Linked DNA regions of Homo sapiens. The protein of the gene in region 4 interacts with the protein of the main gene of each other region in a biochemical or structural test. Each region holds a gene or a part of one and is shown on either strand. Other genes may lie near its edges.

Evidence for each region. The genes of interacting proteins can lie anywhere in the genome.
Region 1: the proteins of SF3B3 (region 4) and U2AF2 form a complex in vitro, tested with the Homo sapiens proteins (one study listed by BioGRID).
Region 2: the proteins of SF3B3 (region 4) and SF3B6 form a complex in vitro, tested with the Homo sapiens proteins (one study listed by BioGRID).
Region 3: the proteins of SF3B3 (region 4) and ERG form a complex in vitro, tested with the Homo sapiens proteins (one large-scale study listed by BioGRID).

What each region holds. Positions count from the first base shown.
Region 1 is NC_000019.10:55,661,535-55,665,868, forward strand, and holds part of U2AF2 (splicing factor U2AF 65 kDa subunit), read left to right. Parts: intron 1-236; exon of another isoform or gene 237-296; intron 297-967; coding exon 968-1,084; intron 1,085-2,071; coding exon 2,072-2,210; intron 2,211-4,334. UniProt on the Homo sapiens protein: Plays a role in pre-mRNA splicing and 3'-end processing. By recruiting PRPF19 and the PRP19C/Prp19 complex/NTC/Nineteen complex to the RNA polymerase II C-terminal domain (CTD), and thereby pre-mRNA, may couple transcription to splicing.
Region 2 is NC_000002.12:24,069,373-24,073,326, forward strand, and holds part of SF3B6 (splicing factor 3B subunit 6), read right to left. Parts: intron 1-3,954.
Region 3 is NC_000021.9:38,382,644-38,386,977, forward strand, and holds part of ERG (transcriptional regulator ERG), read right to left. Parts: intron 1,281-4,334; coding exon 760-1,280; 3' UTR 1-759. UniProt on the Homo sapiens protein: Transcriptional regulator. May participate in transcriptional regulation through the recruitment of SETDB1 histone methyltransferase and subsequent modification of local chromatin structure.
Region 4 is NC_000016.10:70,568,087-70,573,255, reverse strand, and holds part of SF3B3 (splicing factor 3B subunit 3), read right to left. Parts: intron 4,974-5,169; coding exon 4,761-4,973; intron 4,214-4,760; coding exon 4,115-4,213; intron 3,251-4,114; coding exon 3,107-3,250; intron 2,162-3,106; coding exon 2,057-2,161; intron 1,584-2,056; coding exon 1,443-1,583; 3' UTR 1-1,442. UniProt on the Homo sapiens protein: Component of the 17S U2 SnRNP complex of the spliceosome, a large ribonucleoprotein complex that removes introns from transcribed pre-mRNAs.

The sequences.
Region 1 (4,334 bases), on a different chromosome or scaffold from region 4:
CACACACAGACGCACGCTGCCCCTCAGTTTTTTTCTGACACGCCTCTCGTTCTCTGCCGCCTGTCCCCTATCCTCTCCCCCACGTCCCTCCCATGGTCGCTGTTCTTTTATTTTTGATCGCCCCTGACCTCCCCCTTCCCCACCACTCCTTTTCCCTCTCCCCTCTCCCCAACCCCTTCCTGTGGCACCCCCTGAGAATCCCGAGATCAAAGAGTTGTTTCCATTTCTCTTTAAAGTGAAATATTGTGGGGCTGAGATCCCTCGTAGCAACAAAAAGTTTGCTACCATCGTCGAAGGCAAGTAAGGTCCATTCTGACTTTCTCAACCTGCACTTTGCTACATTTGATAAACCAGCCCCCGGACTCCAGGGCCAGATTCCTCCACATCACTCTTTTCTCCTCCCCTCCCGTCCCTGCCCCTCCTCCCTACACTCCTCCTCTCCTGCCCCTGCACTCTTGACTTCCTCCTCCTCGCTCGTCTCTGTCCTGCTCTCCCTTTCTGTCCTTTGCTCGTCTCTGCCCCTGCCTGCCACTTCCTTTCTACTTTCCTGCCACTTTTCTGTCTGTCTCCACTGGGTGGCCCTTCCTGTGTGCTCTGTCTCTTCATCTCTTGTGTTTCGTGTTTTTCTTCATTTTGTGTTGTCATCATGCCCTCTGCCTTTTCTTGAACAATCTTCTCCTTTCCCCTGATTTTTTGGGGCCCCTGTGGCTGTCCCCCAACGCCTGTCCATCGCCTGCCCTTGGCCGTCTCTTGCTACTGCTTCCTCCCCATTTTCTCTCTTGCTTCTGTTCTTACTATTGACTTCTACACCCCCACCCATATTCCACTGTTCCTTCCCCCCCTCCTCCCTCCCCTCATCCCTCTCCCCTTACCCCCAAACCCCTCTGTGTCTCCCTCTCTCACCCTTCCCCTCCTCTCTCCACCTCCCTTCCCCCGCCCCCCCCCTTGTCTCCTATTCCCTCTGCAGGAGGCCATGATGGATTTCTTCAACGCCCAGATGCGCCTGGGGGGGCTGACCCAGGCCCCTGGCAACCCAGTGTTGGCTGTGCAGATTAACCAGGACAAGAATTTTGCCTTTTTGGAGGTGAGCTGGGGGAGTGAGTGAGGTCCAGGAAACGTGTGTGATGTGAGGGCCCAGCCCTTAGGCTGATGTTGTGTGGAGCTGCCTTGTGCTGTTTCCACCAGGCCCTCTGCAGCCTCTTCTCCACCCGGTCGCTGAAGTGAGCCCTGTTATAGCATTACAGATCTGATCCTACTTTCTGCCTTCCATTTGCTTTCTGTGTGACCTGAGAGGCCTGTTTGGCCTCTGTAGACCTCTTTGGCCTTTTCCAGACCATTCCGGCCCAGTCCTCTCTGCACTCTGGCCACACTGACCTTCCCAGAACCTACCATGCTCCTGCCTGCTTGGCTAGAGTTCTTTACACCAGCTAACTGATGTTCCTAACTAGTCTTCTGTTACCCCAGCTAACTGATGTTCCTAACTAGTCTTCTGTGTCTGTGTTTCTCAACTGTCGGGAAAAGGCCTTGGTTTTTGATTTTCGACTCTTGGTGGACTGATAACTCTCATGAAGTATTGTGAAGGTGTGGGCAGTGTTAGCTTACTGCAGAGATTTCTGAGCACTCCCTCTCACTGTCTGAGCACTCCCTCTCACTCTGTCCCTCTCACTCTGTCTTTGCCTCACTGCAGTCCACTTGCAGTTGCATTGCTCCGGAGATGGGCTGAAATGTCCCCCTCACCAGAAAGACTCCAGTACTGTCATCTCCCCGTTCAACTAACCTTTCCCGTAACATCCCTTTTCAGCACTTTGTCCCTCTTCCGTGTCATCACAGCCTGCAATTGTGTGTTTGCCTCTGTGTTTGTGTTGGGTGCCTGGTGTTTTTAATGGTCGAGTGTGAGCTCCTGGCAGCAGGGACATGCGTGTCTGTTGTACTCCCAGTGCCCAGCCTGGGGCCTGGCATGTTGTATTTGTTCACATGAGTGAAAGGAAAGAGGAAATCCCAATCCTGGAACACTAGGGGCTGTACTAGTCCCTGACCCCCATCCCTCACCACTCCTTTCTCTTTCATTCAGTTCCGCTCAGTGGACGAGACTACCCAGGCTATGGCCTTTGATGGCATCATCTTCCAGGGCCAGTCACTAAAGATCCGCAGGCCTCACGACTACCAGCCGCTTCCTGGCATGTCAGAGAACCCCTCCGTCTATGTGCCTGGTGAGTGGGGGATCCATTAAGGGCCCCTTTCTCCCCCAGTCCTGTTCCCATGGCCTGTCCATCCCTTCAGCCCAGCTGGAGTGGCTTAGGAAGTTGTGTAAGTACTGTGGAAGATAGGTGCCTTTTCCCTGCTTCCCCTAAGTCTCTGTGAGTGGGGTGCTCTCCTGCTGGTAGAGAAGGTGCCTAGGGCCGGGAGAATGAGCTGTCACCTGCTGAGGACACACAGCTTGTACGTGGCAGAGCCAGGATCAGACCAAAGGTGCTGGGGAAGCGAGGGGCTTGTGGCCTGGACCTCGTGCCTGCGTTGCGGCTGTGGGACCTTGGAGGGCTCAGTCTGTGCCCGTCGGGGCTGCTGTGTGTCGACGGTTGGCAGCAAAGCTGCTGCTGTGGGGTCTGGCACCTGGGTATTCACTTGTTTTTGTCTCCTAGTGTTTGCCTTGAATCTTGTGTTCTGGGCCATTCCCCATAGCTGTGTTGAACATCATCTGTAATTGGTAGGTAACATAGCAGACCAGGGGTTGGCGACCATGTCACTGTGTGTGAAAGCAGCCGGACGGTGTCTGCGTGCGTGGGCCTGGCTGTGTGCCGGCACACCTCGACACGCGTGGCTGCTGAGGTTGGGCTTTCCTGTGCTTCTCACAGGCCACAGAATGGTCTCCCTTTAGAAAGCTTGCAGGATGTGCAAAACCAGGTGATGGGCCCTGTCAGCCCACAGGCTATAGTTGGCTGACCCTTGTAGCTGATGAATGGGATTTGAGGGAGGGCTTGTCTGATGCCCTGTCAGGGTGCGGCTGTGTCTCAGGCCTGGGACATGGAGGAGGTGGGGTTCTGCTGGCGGGTACTCACTGTTCGAGGAGCCCTTTAGGAACTGAGTCAGCTCTTCAGGGCAGGCGATGTGGAGCCCCAGACGGAGGCACATCTGTGTCAGGCAGGACTTGGGCTAGGTCCCTCACTGGCCTCCAGTGCTTTTCTTTTTGTTGTTGTTGTTGTTTTGAGACAGTCTCGCTCTGTCACCCAGGCTGGAATGCAGTGGCACGATCTCGGCTTACTGCATCCTCCGCCTCTAGGGTTCAAGCAATTCTCCTGCTTCAGCCTCCCGAGCAGCTGGGATTACAGGCACCTGCCACCATGTCTGGCTAATTTTTGTATTTTTAGTAGAGGGTGGGTTTCACCATGTTGGTCAGGTTGGTCTCCGACGCCTGACCTCAAGTGATCCGCTCACCTCAGTCTCCCAGAGTGTTGGGATTACAGGCATGAGCCACTGCGCTCAGCCCAGTGCTTTTCCATCATGGGTTTTGGTAAATTCAGCTAACCTTTTGGAGCCTGTAATATATGTTGACATGCTCCCAATCGACATGGACTTTTTACGTATGGGTGCGTTTCCCCGATCAAGCTGCAGAATGTCTTCCCCACGTCTCTTCCTGGTGAATCCACTGCGTTTTCATTCATTTTAAGTCCCATGAGTGGCCCGCCACTTGCTGGTGCTTAGTGTGTGTCAGGCGCTGTCCTAAGTGCCCTCCATGCACGGCAGTTCTACGACACAGGGATTGGCGCTGTCCTAAGTGCCCTCCATGGACGGCAGTTCTACGACACAGGGATTGGCGCTGTCCTAAGTGCCCTCCATGCACGGCAGTTCTACGACACAGGGATTGGCGCTGTCCTAAGTGCCCTCCATGGACGGCAGTTCTACGACACAGGGATTGGCGCTGTCCTAAGTGCCCTCCATGGACGGCAGTTCTACGACACAGGGATTGGCGCTGTCCTAAGTGCCCTCCATGGACGGCAGTTCTACGACACAGGGATTGGCGCTGTCCTAAGTGCCCTCCATGCACGGCAGTTCTACGACACAGGGATTGGCAGGTTACAACTGAGAGTCCAACGCTGGCCCACTGCCTGTTTTTTGTTTTTTTGTTGTGTTTTTTGAGACGGAGTCTTGCTGTGTTGCCCAGGCTGGAGTGCAGTGGTGTGATCTCGGCTCACTGCAACCTCCGCCTCCCAGGTTCAAGCGATTCTCCTGCCTCAGCCTCCCGAGTAGCTGGGATTACAGGCATGTGCCACCACACCTGCTAATTTTTTGTGTTTTTAGTAGAGATGGGGTTTCACCATGTTGGCCAGGCTGGTCTC
Region 2 (3,954 bases), on a different chromosome or scaffold from region 4:
TCACCAACTTCCTCTGGGAGAGGTAGAGAAGTTTGAGGAGCAACGCAACGCTAAATTGCAGGCAGCAGGTGGCCATGTGACTGTTAGTGGAGACAATGGGTAGAGGTCCCACTCAGTTCAGGCTCTGGGTGACAAGATGGCCCCCTTGCCTCCATCTGTGTTCCAACCACCCAGTGCAACTGTGGAATGAGGTTTAAGACTGTGGGCTGACTCTCCATCTGCCACAGTCCTTACATAGGGTTGAATAAAAGCAGTGGAGCCATGGGAAGAGGAGGTACCTGCCTAGACTTGATCTAGGATAGGACTATAGTCTGGGCCCTGTTCAAGCTTGTGCTTCCTGTAAAATTGAAAAGGAATAGGGTACTGGGGGTGATTGGAGGGTGCCACTGTCAATGAATGCGCTCACTTTGTCAGGTTGTGTGGGCCTGACGAGGGGTTTTAGAATGTTCTTTAGGCTCTGGCAAGTCTTAACAACTTTCAGACTTTTGACTTCTAAAAACTTAATAAGATTTTCAGTTCCTTAAGAGCAAAGGTGATCTTATGCGTACTTCATTTATTCCTTTAGTGCCACGCATAAGGCAGACGCTAATACGCCTTTGAAAAGTGGAGATCTACTTTCTTCTATCAGTTCTCTCACACACACTTTGTTCAGGAAGCTCAAAACAAAACTAAACAAAGCAACTCTCTTTCTTCCTCTTATATCTTCTTAGGAACTAGAATAGGGATAGACACTAACCCCACTTTAAAGACTCTCCATCTTAAGTGTCCCAGCCCTAATTATCAACCTCACACCTTGAGAGCCATATTATAATTTGAACTTTTAAAAGCATGTATCTGTACCTACCACGTATTGGACACTGAGCTAACATTATTTTCTTATTTTTTTGAGACAGAGTCAACCAATTCTTGTGCAGGTGTGCGCCACCATGCCCGACTAATTTTTGTATTTTTAGTAGAGATGGGGTTTTGCCATGTTGGCCAGGCAGGTCTCGAACTCCTGGCCTCAAGTGATCCACCCACCTCAGCCTCCCAAAGTGCTACAATTTTCTTGACTGGCATTAAAATCTTAGAGTAGGAATAAGAACACCTAAGCGTGTAACTTAGCCTCTGTGAGCTTCGGATGCTTCATGTATCCAGTGCCATCAGGCTCTATCACGTGCCCTACCTTCCACGTGGGTTTAATAATCAAAAGAGGTAACAAGTATCAAAGAGTTTTAAAAAGTACAAAGTACCAAGTGCCTGCTACATGCCAGGTAGGGTCAAACCAAATCATCCTGATTTGACTGGGACTGTCCAGGTTTTAGCACTGAAAGTCCAGTGTCCCAGAAAATCTCTCAGTACTGGGCAAACTGGGAAGGTTGGTCACCCTAGTGCCAGGTGCCAGGTATACAATAAAGCATGATCACAGTAATGGAACAGAAAAACAGCTGTTTCTCAATCTATAATTTAGACCTAAGCTCCTGTACCCTAAACTTCTATTAACCTATTCAACACATAGACTATGTTCTTTCTGCGACAGGCACTAGAAATACAATAGTGAAAAAGATAAGCATCATCCCTTCCTTCAAGCTTATATTCAGGCAGTAGAAAGACATTAAATAAATATGAAATCATTATAAATCTTTTTTTTTTCTTTTTGAGACGGAGTCGCACTCTGTCGCCCAGGCTGGAGTACAGTGGCATGATCTTGGCTCACTGCAACCTCCACCTCCCGGGTTCAAGCGGCTCTCCTGCCTCAGCCTCCTGAGTAGCTGGGATTATAGGCATGCACCACCACGCCTGGCTAAGTTTTGTATTTTTAGTAGAGACGAGGTTTCACCATGTTGGTCAGGCTGTTCTCAAACTCCTGACCTTGTGATCTGCCCACTTCAGCCTTCCAAAGTGCTGGCATTACAGGCGTGAGCCACTGCGCCCAGCCCTGAAATAATTATAAATCTTAAGAAATGTTTCGGCTTGGCACGGTGGCTCATGCTTGTAATCCCAGCACTTTGGGAAGCCGAGGTGGGAGGATCACCTGAGGTCAGGAGTTCAAGACCAGCCTGGCCAACGTGGTGAAACCCCATCTCTACTAAAAATACAAAAATTAGCCAGGCATGCTGGTGGGTGCCTGTAATCTCAGCAACTCAGGAGGCTGAGGCTGGAGAACCACTTGAACCTGGGAGGCGGAGTTTGCAGTGAGCCGAGATCGTGCCATTGCACTCCAGCCTGGGCAACAAGAGCGAAACTCCATCTTAAAAAAAGAAATGTTTCATACAAGAAGTAGAAAGCTGTAACAGATAGGGAAACAGGGAGCTACTTCAGCTAGGGTGGTCAGGGAAAACCCCTCTGAAAAGGTGACACTGAAGCTGAGACCTGAAGAATGAGGAGGAGCCAGGCATGAGATGAGCTGGTGAAAACCATTCCAGATACAAGGAAAATAGAAGCACAAAGGTTCTGAGCTGCTCTGCACTCTTCTGAAGATGCCCCTGCTTTATTCCCTGTCCTTTCATTTTGGCTTTCTGAAACATTCTCTAACTTCACTGATTTTAAGCATCCCTTAATTGAGTACTATCAATAAATTTTATAATGCCCTAGTAAACCAATCACAACCACTTTTTATATTATTCTTCTATTTTCTTTTCTTTTGTTGAAACAGGATCTCACTCTGTCGCCCAGACTGGAGTGCAGTGGCATGATCTCGGCTCACTCACTGCAGCCTCAGCCTCCCAGGTTCAAGCGATTCTCCCACTTGAGCCTCCTGAGTAATTGCATTACAGGCGCGTGCCACCATGCCCAGCTAATTTTTGTATTTTTTTTTAGAGAGGGGGTTTCACCATTTGGCCAGGGTGGTCTCGAACTCCTAACCTCTGGTGATCTGCCTGTCTCGGCCTCCCAAAGTGCCGGGATTACAGGTGTGAGCCACCACATCTGGCCTATTCTACTATTTTCTATATTATTCATTTAGTATACATCGGGTGCTTACCATGTATCGCACAAGTGCTATCAACACAAAAACAAAAATAATATATGGTACGAGCCCTGGAGGAACTCACAACCTGCCCAGGGTGACAGATGAATATAGAGACAACAGCAAAACCATGTGTTAACCTAGGAGAGACACATGGAAATGCTATGGGAGCAGAAGAGTGGCTAATGTACACTGGGAAGGAAAACTGATAAAGTACCTTCACAGACACTGTGTAATTTCATCCAAATTAAAATTCTTTTAAGACAGTAGGTTAGGAAGACTGTATTTCATAGATAATTGAAACCCAGATAAGGTTAAATATTTTCTCCAGTTTCGTAAGAGTAGGCAAGCCAGTATTTGAACCCAGGCCTTACAACCAATCTATGCTGTTTCCACATTAAAAGCTAAAAGGCCACCACCCAGATTATCTCATACATGAAGAGAAAACCAAAAAAGCTAGGCAACTAGTCACACACATGGCTAGTAACAAGGCCTGAAGTAGAATCTTGTCTCCTGATCCCCAAGGCAGGGATTCGCCATGTTGGCCAGGCAGGTCTTGAACTCCTGGCCTTGTATACCATTCTGTATCTAGAGCAGGGTTTCTTGACCTAGAGTCCATGTATCCCCTGAAATATATGCAACATGAGTGTATTCTTCTGTGGAAGGAGTCTAAAGCTTTTATCAGATGCTCAAAGGACTGAGACCTCCTAAAAAGGACAGCTGGTCTATAACACTTTCACTTTCATCCCCATCTGAGTACCAATGATCATGTATTTCCAGCTCTTGGTTTACTCTCTGGAGGGACAGTGTCATTCAAAAGGAGGGTCCTCAAGACCTCATAGTCCTAAAGCCAGGAAGGAGCTCTCAAGTCATACAAGACGGAATTCCGACTAGAAATAAAAACTTTATACGTAGTCATTACTGTGGTAAAATAATAATTTTTTTAAAATAAAAACTTTAGAAATCCTTTCAGATGGACTCTTAAGTCACTAGCCCTTTCATATGAG
Region 3 (4,334 bases), on a different chromosome or scaffold from region 4:
GAAGTTTCTTTCCCAGCCCTGGTCTCCTCCTTCTCTGCCTCTTCCTCCTCCTTCTTCACCCCTCTGTCTACAATCACACGCTCACTCTATACACATCCTCAGTCCCACCTTTTAGTTCATAGTCCCGGTAATACTGTAAAGGAGTTGGAAACTTTGGGTCATCTTCACAGTTTGAGAAAGCTGACAGCTGTCCATCAAACGGAATGTATTTGATTTCAACCAAAACAGCACATGCCATGCAGTTGCATATCAACGTCTGTTGATGGGCCACAGTCTCTCTCGTGTCTTTTCTCTTGTTTTTGATATGTTTCTATTTTTAAATACAGGTAGTTTTCCTTAAAATGGCATTATAAACGGTATGTTAGGTCAAAACTGTGTTGTTTCTATTGCTTTAGTTTCATCCCAGTTTGCATTAGTGGGATTCCAAACTCTACTCTAAAGTTTATACATTTCTTAAGACCACTTTCTTTGGCACTTTGTCCTTAAGACTTCATGCTTCTACATACACTGTCTTTTACAAGGTCAGTCCACAGATGATATGTCCATATTCGTGACATTTTTAGCATCCTCCTCATTTCTGTAGTAAGACTTCAGTAACTCCCTCCCAAGAGTCTTTGGATCTCTTCCCCGGCTTCCTTCCCCAGCCCCAGTAAAGCTTTTTTCATTCCTCTTGAGGCACTTTTGATTCATGTTCTCCGATAGAGTTTGTGGCGATGGGCTGGTGAATGCACGCTGATGGGAAAAGCCTCCGCCAGGTCTTTAGTAGTAAGTGCCCAGATGAGAAGGCATATGGCTGGTGGGGAGCCTAGTGTTGGGGTATATACCCCCAGTTGGTGAATTCCAGTATGGGTTTGGGGCAGCAAAAAAACTGGAAGATGTCACGGGGAGGGCTGGAGGGTGGGGCGCCACAAAGTTCATCTTCTGTGGGTGGGCGTGATAGGAGCCCATGTACGGGAGGTCTGAGGGGTACTTGTACAGAGATGACTCCGGGGGGTGGGGCTGGAGGGCCTGGGCGATCCCGTGGAAGTCGAACTTGTAGGCGTAGCGCTTCCCATGGACCTTGGTCATGATGTTCTTGTCATAGTAGTAACGGAGGGCGCGGCTGAGCTTATCGTAGTTCATGTTGGGTTTGCTCTTCCGCTCTCCCCAGCGCCGGGCCACCTCGTCGGGATCCGTCATCTTGAACTCCCCGTTGGTGCCTTCCCAGGTGATGCAGCTGGAGTTGGAGCTGTCCGACAGGAGCTCCAGGAGGAACTGCCAAAGCTGGATCTGGCCACTGCCTAATGAGGTCAGGAGAGGAAGGAAAACTCCAGTGAGCACAGGTTCCAGGGGAAAGAGGCTCTCTGTGATGACGGAAGGAGGTGCTATTGGTGTGCCGCCCACATTCCCTTCACCAGGCCTGTCCGTCCATCCCTCAGCTGCAGGGGTGCGGACTGCTCTCGTTCCATGGCCACCCACTTCTCCAGAGAACTGCCCTTGCCTGAACAGAGCCGCCGCCTCGCCCACCCCCAGGTATCCCACAGCTGGGTGGACTGAACGGGGTACCACGGGCCGGCCCCCTTGCCTCAAGGAAAGACCAACTCCATGACGCTATTCAGGCTTCAGGGCTCCCGTGGGATTGGGCTGAAACAGCGTCCAGCTGCAAGGAGGCTTGGAGGAGGCCAGAAACTTCCTTAGCGCTGCCCCTGCAGCACTTCCCATTCTCTCTCTCCTGAGAACATGCCGTTAATCAGTCACCTGCACAAGCAGGCTTACCCCAAGCTCTGCATCAAGGGAACCCGACCTAGGACGATGATCTAACAGATTCAAGACCTAGATGGAATGCAGCGAATTCATATGGGGCAAAGTTCAGGCTGCTTCCATCCATTTCTGACGTCCTTAAAAGAACAGCCAGATCAACCTGGTGTTTAGGGGATGAAAGAGCTATATATTTTTTTTTCCTATTTTGTGAAGCACAAAGTACTGTTATGTGGATGGCAATAATGACTTAATGCCATTTATATTGGCTAGGTCAAGTAAGATAATAAAAGTTAGATTTAGGAAATGAACTTCTAAAAGTTTATGGAAAAAAATCGAGAATGGAAGTAAACACCATTATTTCTAACATAACATTTTGCTGGCGCTCAGAAAGCAATTCTGTGAAAACTTTTCCTAGAACAGAATTAACCCACTCAAAATGAGGAAGTTTAGGAAAAAAAAAAAAAAAGCTGGCTCTTTTTCAAACCAGATCACCCAGTTCCAGTATTTGGGCAAGCGCATCGTAACGGAAACCAGTGCCTTGCCTGTGTGCTGCAACGCCAATTGTGTTAAGCAGCATTTCCAGAAGAAAAACCCCAACAATGAGTGATTGCAAGTCCCCTTGGGAAGCTGAATGAGACTCTTCCTTTGTCAAAGAGATCACATTTAGCTGGGTGGACAAAGTCAGAATTTTCTTGATTTCATTGAAATCATACAGATACAGCTTTGTTTTATGAAATTCAAAGAAAAATCTAGGCACATCATTCTAGCTGCTATGTTACAATACTTGAAGATAGTTTATGGCTCCCTAGAAGACAGCAGCATGTAAATATTGACAGCAGTATCCGTACCAAGAGAAGCTAAGCTGTGCTGAACATATTTCAGAAGCTTAAGAACAGATGGGAGGTGGGTCTTTCCTCCCAAATTCCAGTTACAGCACTGCCTTAGACTTATTACCAAAAGATTACCTTTTATTATAGTGTAAGTAATATCAATCGATGTGATAAAATGATTAAAGTAACTTTAACTGACATCTACTCAGGGAAGTAATATACTGTAAAAATCAATTTTACGTTCATTTTCTTCTAAATCCTCGCTAGCCTCCTGTACATATCACCCAACTTATAAACTCTGCTTTGCATGTTGGCTACATGGACATGGATATTTTTGTGAATTTATCCATACAATAGCACTGTGAGAAAGGTCAGCTTTTTCTGAATCTATGCTGGAAAGTGCTCATTTTCAGTCTAGCAACACATTTGAAATGTATTAACAGCTTGTAGCTCATTGAAGTGGAAGCCTTTGCTTTTTCAGAACCACATATACAAACTGTTCCCAATCAAGTTTTGTTGCCTCCAACATTTTATTAATATGCATTTAGAAAATACAAAGAATGGTATGAGAAAACCATATGGTCTTAGTATATATATTGTAACCAAAAAATTACAACTTGAAAAAATTCCGTATATGACCTGGGAATAGGAAAAGGCATGGATTTTTGATTTAACAGTCTAACAGATGCTTCAATATAAACACATACGGTTGTTTGAAAATAAATATTCAGCGTCAACTTTCTCCCATAGAGAAAGCAACTCCACAGACCTGCCGAAATCACACTTGGAATCTACTCAAACCTTGGCATTGCCTCTTAGCAATTTGTCCCTCACCCATTTCTCTTATAAACGTGTGTAGGACAGAATCAGTGGACAAAAGTGATCTCATGTCTCTCCTATTTCTGAAGAGTTAGAAAGCAGGGGACCTAAATTTGTGGCAGCAAACTCTATGCCCAAAGGATGGATGAGCTAATTTCTCACTTGACTATTTTACCCAGTAGCCATAAAGACATAGGGCTCAGGACTGTGAGAATTTCAAGGGAGGGTCTATAGAAATAAGAGAACTGTAAGCAAAATTCATCAGCTTTCAAACCTTGAAAGAAACCTGGAAATGCAAAATCAATGAATGTTTAAGTAAATGGTAGAAAGAGTAACATCATGTCAAACTCATTAATTGTTAAATTTAATATTTGTAACAAAATTCGCTGCATTTTGCAGTGTGTAGAACAAAATTTCTCACTGCAAGAATTCTCAAAAATGAACAATGGTTGTTAAAAAATTGTCAGTGGTAAAGGAATTATTCTCAGTCATAAAATTTTAAGAGCAATTTTTAAATTCTTATTTTACTTCCAAAACAATAACATTTAATGTGTGACGAGGTGCATTTTAGAATATAGAATAGAGATTTCCAAACAAGAATGCTTAGGGTTTAGGAAAGCCTAAAAGTGGCTTGGGTCACTCATGGGCCAAACCAGGATTTACAAAGAGAAGTTCTTGAAAGACAAGAGCTTTCATTGAGTAGCATCACCACCTCTACCTTAGGACTCACCTTTCTTGGGTAAACCCTTCAGATCTATTTTTTTTTTTTACTCTCTCTTAATAACATCCTTGCGATGTCAGTAAGGAGGAACTAATTTTTTCTTAGGGTAATTACCAAAATAAAACATATTTGGAGGTAAAAAACAGTGGCAAGCAGCATTGTCCACCTACAGAGAACCCTGTGGGTGAAAGGGAGCGGCTGTGGCTTTTAAGAAGACAGAGGCA
Region 4 (5,169 bases):
TAATTCAGAACTACTGTCTACTATGCAAATTCATGAGCTAAGTGAGAAAAAAACATGTTATTTAGGGATTCGATTCCTGGCAAAACCTGGGTCTCTCTTGACTGATCTAAAACCAAGTCATGATTCAAGAGATACTTAGTTCCAGGAGACAGTGTCACAGTGTCAGGAACCCTCTGTTCTGGGCTCTGAGAGGTTCAGATTGTATTCCACCATTCCTGATTCTAACCCAGTGCTCACCAGATCATTTGCTCAATTTAGATGGCTGAGCACATGCAGACGAAAGAAAGTTTTACATTTGTGAAGTATTGAGAACAGTGAGCTCACTTCTCCAGGTTCAAGGCGCAAGGACAGCCTGGAAGACGAGGGCTTCCCACACAACTAAACAGGAGGAATTCTCAGGGGTGGGCTGGAACATTTCTGGAACTGGGCCTCTTCCACCTAACAGGCTCTCATTATACCCTAAAGGCCCTCTGGAACCCACCTGAGATGGGTGCTGCAGACAGGCCCCACATATACACAGTTCTCAGGGGCAGGGCAGTATCTAGGTTCTTCTGTACTGACCCTTCCTATGGTCCTATGGAGCCAAAGATCGCTTTAGGTGCTGTATCAGTAAAAGGGGCATCTGTTAAGACTCCCCAGCTAGAATTCATGCTAAAATCCCCATACTAACATCCTCAGAGTAGAAGAGGAGGAAGAATCAGCCACCCTTCCTCAATACCCAGTGGGAAGAGGGGTGGGTATACACATGGTTATTGAGGTCATGTTTCATCAGCACAGCAAAAAGAACCAGGAAAAAACAAAGAAACCACCACAGACCTGGGGGTGGGGAGCCACAGAGTGCCGCAAGTCCAAGTCGGTATCTGGAAGGAAGGAGTCTACTCAGTTCTTCCTGCTCTAACTTGGGTTCAAACCTCCCACCTACATCCTCATCTCCAGAACAAGACACATGGATGCCAGTCACCTTAAAAACTAGGTTTCTATTTCTGGTTAGATTCTAGAGCAGTGGAACTCAGGAGTGATACTATACCCTACCCAGTCCCACCACAGCCTGCCTCCTTCCTCCCACAGAGATAACATTGTACAAAACTGTATTTACAAGAAAACCAATTAAAAATTAAGGGTGTGTGCAAAAGTAGACAGGAGAGTCAAGACATATCAATGCAGGGATGGCTTTGGGGAATGGGGGACTCAGGTTCTACACTGGAACCTGGGGTCATGTATCATGTACCAGGTGGGGAGAAGTGTAGCAAATCTCAGTGCCAATTTGAGGGGAAGCCAGTCATTCCAGGAGAAGAGCTGAGGGGAAAGAGCTGTTGACTTTCATAATGCAGTCTTAATTATCCAGTCACCCTCCTGCCACATGGCAGAAGCCAGGTGGCAGTGATGGTGGTGGGGGAAACAAAACACACAGTCTCTGGCAAGCCCCACCGGGAAAGGAGGGCTCAGAAGGCGTAGCGGGTCCGGATATCCTCGAGTTTCTTGGACACTTCGGGTGGGGTTCGGTCCAGTTCTTCAGAGACGTTCTTTTGTTTGTTGGGTTCCATGGAATTGAACTGCTCACAGAGGTCTCCATCAATCACATTCTAAGATATGGAGAAAGCAGAAAGAAAAAAAATGGTGAGATGCCCAAAGAAAATGGCACATGCTAAAGCAGCACTTGTAGGGAAAGCTGTTTTTATTTTTTAGTTTTTGAGACAGGGTCTCACCCTATCATCCGGGTTGCAGTGCAGTGGGATAATCTTAGCTCACTGCACTCTCAAAATCTGGGGCTCAGCCTCCCGATTGGCTGGGACCACAAATGTGTGCCACCACGCCCAGACCGGGAAAACTTTTTATTCTCCACTCGATACTTGAACCCCACTTGTAGATCCAGGAACACTATCTTAAGTTGACTCTTGGTACTCAGAGTTCAGATTGGCAGAAGCAGGTGAAGCCTTTGCTCTGGCTGTGGTCTGCCCTGAGGGGAGCACCCTCCCTGGTACTATTCCCATCAATCCACTCCCTGTGCTGCTCCTTTCTCAGATCTCCCTTTTCAGCTCAGATTCCCCCAACCTACCTTCACAGGGAAGTAGTAGGAGCGAAAGCTGAGGTGGTCCCGCCCACAGAGAGGGGGATGTTCAGACCGCAGGTGCATTTCCACATGCTGGAAGAAGTCATGGTCCTGGCAGAAGAAACAAAAAATCTGTCACTGAGAAGTGATTTCAACTAGTCTAGAGTTTCCACAAGCACAACGAACAGACAAGCCATTCATTTTTACTACACAAACACACGGGAAATATCTAATCACTTTCTGATAATCACAGGTTTTTCTGCTACAACACGATAGTTAAACCCCAAAAGGAGACCACATGTTGTCTGCAGTGCAAGAGAGAATGCCACACATAAAGAATGGTTTGTGAGGTCAGATTCCTGATCCCAGCTTCCTTGGCTGGAATAAAACATGCCAAACTCTGGCAAACCTAGAGTTGATTCCATATGGCAGTGTGTGCCCCAGGAGGGATCATCCCATCAATCCTGGCAATCCTAGTCTGTGGAGTCCAGTTCTAAAGCTCTGGGCTCAGGCTAACCTTGTAAACTCGCATCAGACTGAAGCAAACCCTGGGACACTATAAAAACAAACGGCCTGGCCGGGCGCGGGTGGCTCACGCCTGTAATCCCAGCACTTTGGGAGGCTGAGGCAGGCGGATCACAAGGTCAAGAGATCGAGACCACCCTGGCTAACACGGTGAAACCCCATCTCTATTAAAAATACAAAAAATTAGCCGGGCATGGTGGCGGGCGCCTGTATTCCCAGCTACTTGGGAGGCTGAGGCAGGAGAATGGCGTGAACCTGGGAGGTGGAGTTTGCAATGAGCTGAGATTGCGCCACTGCACTCCAGCCCGGGTAACAGTGAGACTCCGTCGCAAAAAAAAAAAAAAAAACCAAATGGCCTTCCCTGGGTGCGGGAGAATCAAGATTCCTATCTCCCCAAGTACTTCTGTCACTTTATAATTCCCAGAACATTATTAATTATATGTGGGGACAAATGAATTTGACCTCTTAGGTAGATCCAGCACCAAGAAACAACCTTAAAAGTCAAGGCCAGAGTAATGTGGGCGCTCTCACCTCATGGGACGTGAATGGCACAAGGATGCCAATTCCTCCAGACAAGGTGGTATAGACAAGTGATTCTGAGCCTCCAGGGATCAGCGTGGTCTTCTGCAAGGACAGCACCGTCTCCCCGACATGGTAGTTCATGATCACCTCTGCCTGTGAGTCACAAACAGACTAGTGACTGTGTGCACCCTCAGGAGCCTCCCTGGACTCCCAAGGGCAAGCAGTGCTCCCTAAGGCACATTTCATCATCTATTAACATCCAAAAATTATTATAGAGGCCAACGTGGGAGGATTGCTTGAGCCCAGGATTTCAAGACCAGCCTGGGCAACACAGTGAGGTCTCGTATACCCATACCCACAAAATCTGCCAGGTTTGGTGGCATGTACTATAGTCTCAGCTACTCAGGAGGCTGAGTGGGAAGGATCACTTGAGCCCAGGAGGTGGAAGCTGCAGTGATCTGTGATTGTACCACCACACTCCAGCCCGGGCGACTGAGTGAGACCTTGTCTCAAAAACAAACAATAAATCCAAAAATTATTAAACCCTACAAATATTTTAAAATTCTCACATTTACTTAAAGCTTAATGCCTCATAAAACATGCTAAAGTTACTGTTCATCATTTCTTACGATAAGAATCATTTTGTTAAATTTATCAAGCTTGCCATAAAAAAGGAAAACACAAAGAAAATTATAGAAAACAGCAATCACTAGGCTTGTCTTCTAAAATAGATTTGCCCGAAAGTCCAGAGATGCTCTATTAAAGCAGCACATGCCTACAGGAGAAAGTAAAGCCCAGGACACACCTCAGAGCAGAGGACTGGGAATGGACTCTCTCTAAGAAACTCGCTACTCTCCAAGGAGATTTTTTGCAGATTGGTAAGAAAGGACTGTGGACGGACAGCACTCAGCACAGTCGTGTGCACTATGAATAATTCACCAAAGGCAATTTCTTCAGTGAGGGCAACAGGAAAAGTGCTAAGCAGTGTTCTCCCTGGGGCCCATTCTGCAATCTTACCTTCTGGGAGGCCCCATTGAGCAAGCCACGGTCCCACAGGGCTTTGTTTCCTGTAGGATCCTCATCTACTTCATCATTGGTGTTAGGTGGGAGCCTCACCTACAAGGAAGTGACACAAGTCACACTGCTGGGGCCCGGACCTGCTCACCTGAGTCACCAAGCAACAGGTCTGGCCAGGTCTTTGCAAGTCAGCCACAGGGGCACTGCCTAGACAGAGGCCTGAGCCCACGTGTCCTGCACCTGCTCTGGTGGGCAGGAGCTGTGTCTGAGGAGCAAGAAACTCAAAAGAATCGACCCATGAGCAAGAGTTTAACACAGCTAAGGGTAAAACCAAAACCACACAACATAGATAACAGACATTCCAAAGTTCTTATAAAATGTAAAAAGAAATATTAGCCATTAGCTCAAACTAAACCTATCATTAAATCACGTTCAATAGGGAGGAGGGAGATAAACCACAGAGAAAAATCCAAAAGACTAGTAAGAAGGCTTAAAGAACAGATTGCTTGTAGAGTTAGCTTTAGTAGGATGGAATTTTATATCCATTTTTACTTCTCAGATTTGATTCCTCCTTGGCTTTACCCACAAGAAACTGAGCCAGCTTTCCTACACATCACTGTAACCCAAGTTAACAACATCAACTCACCACACATATGTTGCCAAACTTGTCTGCCCCAGCCACAGTGTCATAGTCCAGGAGGCTGGCTGTAGTGACCCATCGGGGGTAGGTATCATCAGCAAAGATGATAAGCTGGTTTTCATTACGCTTGTAGCGAACCCAGATGAAACTTTCTTGGACATCAGATACAATTACCCTATGTCCGATAGTCTGGATCCCAGAGATATAATTGGCAATATGCTGGGAAAAACAAAGACAATAGTGATGGTGGGTGTAATCTTGGGGTTCAGAACCCAAAGAAAGCCCAGCTTTCCGTATGACATACGTAGGGTCAGCAGAACAGCAAATACCAAAAACCAGCAGTTAGCAATGAATTCTAGGTGGGAAAAAAGAGCCAAATAGCTTTTAATATAGTGCAAATATATGCCTAACTCTC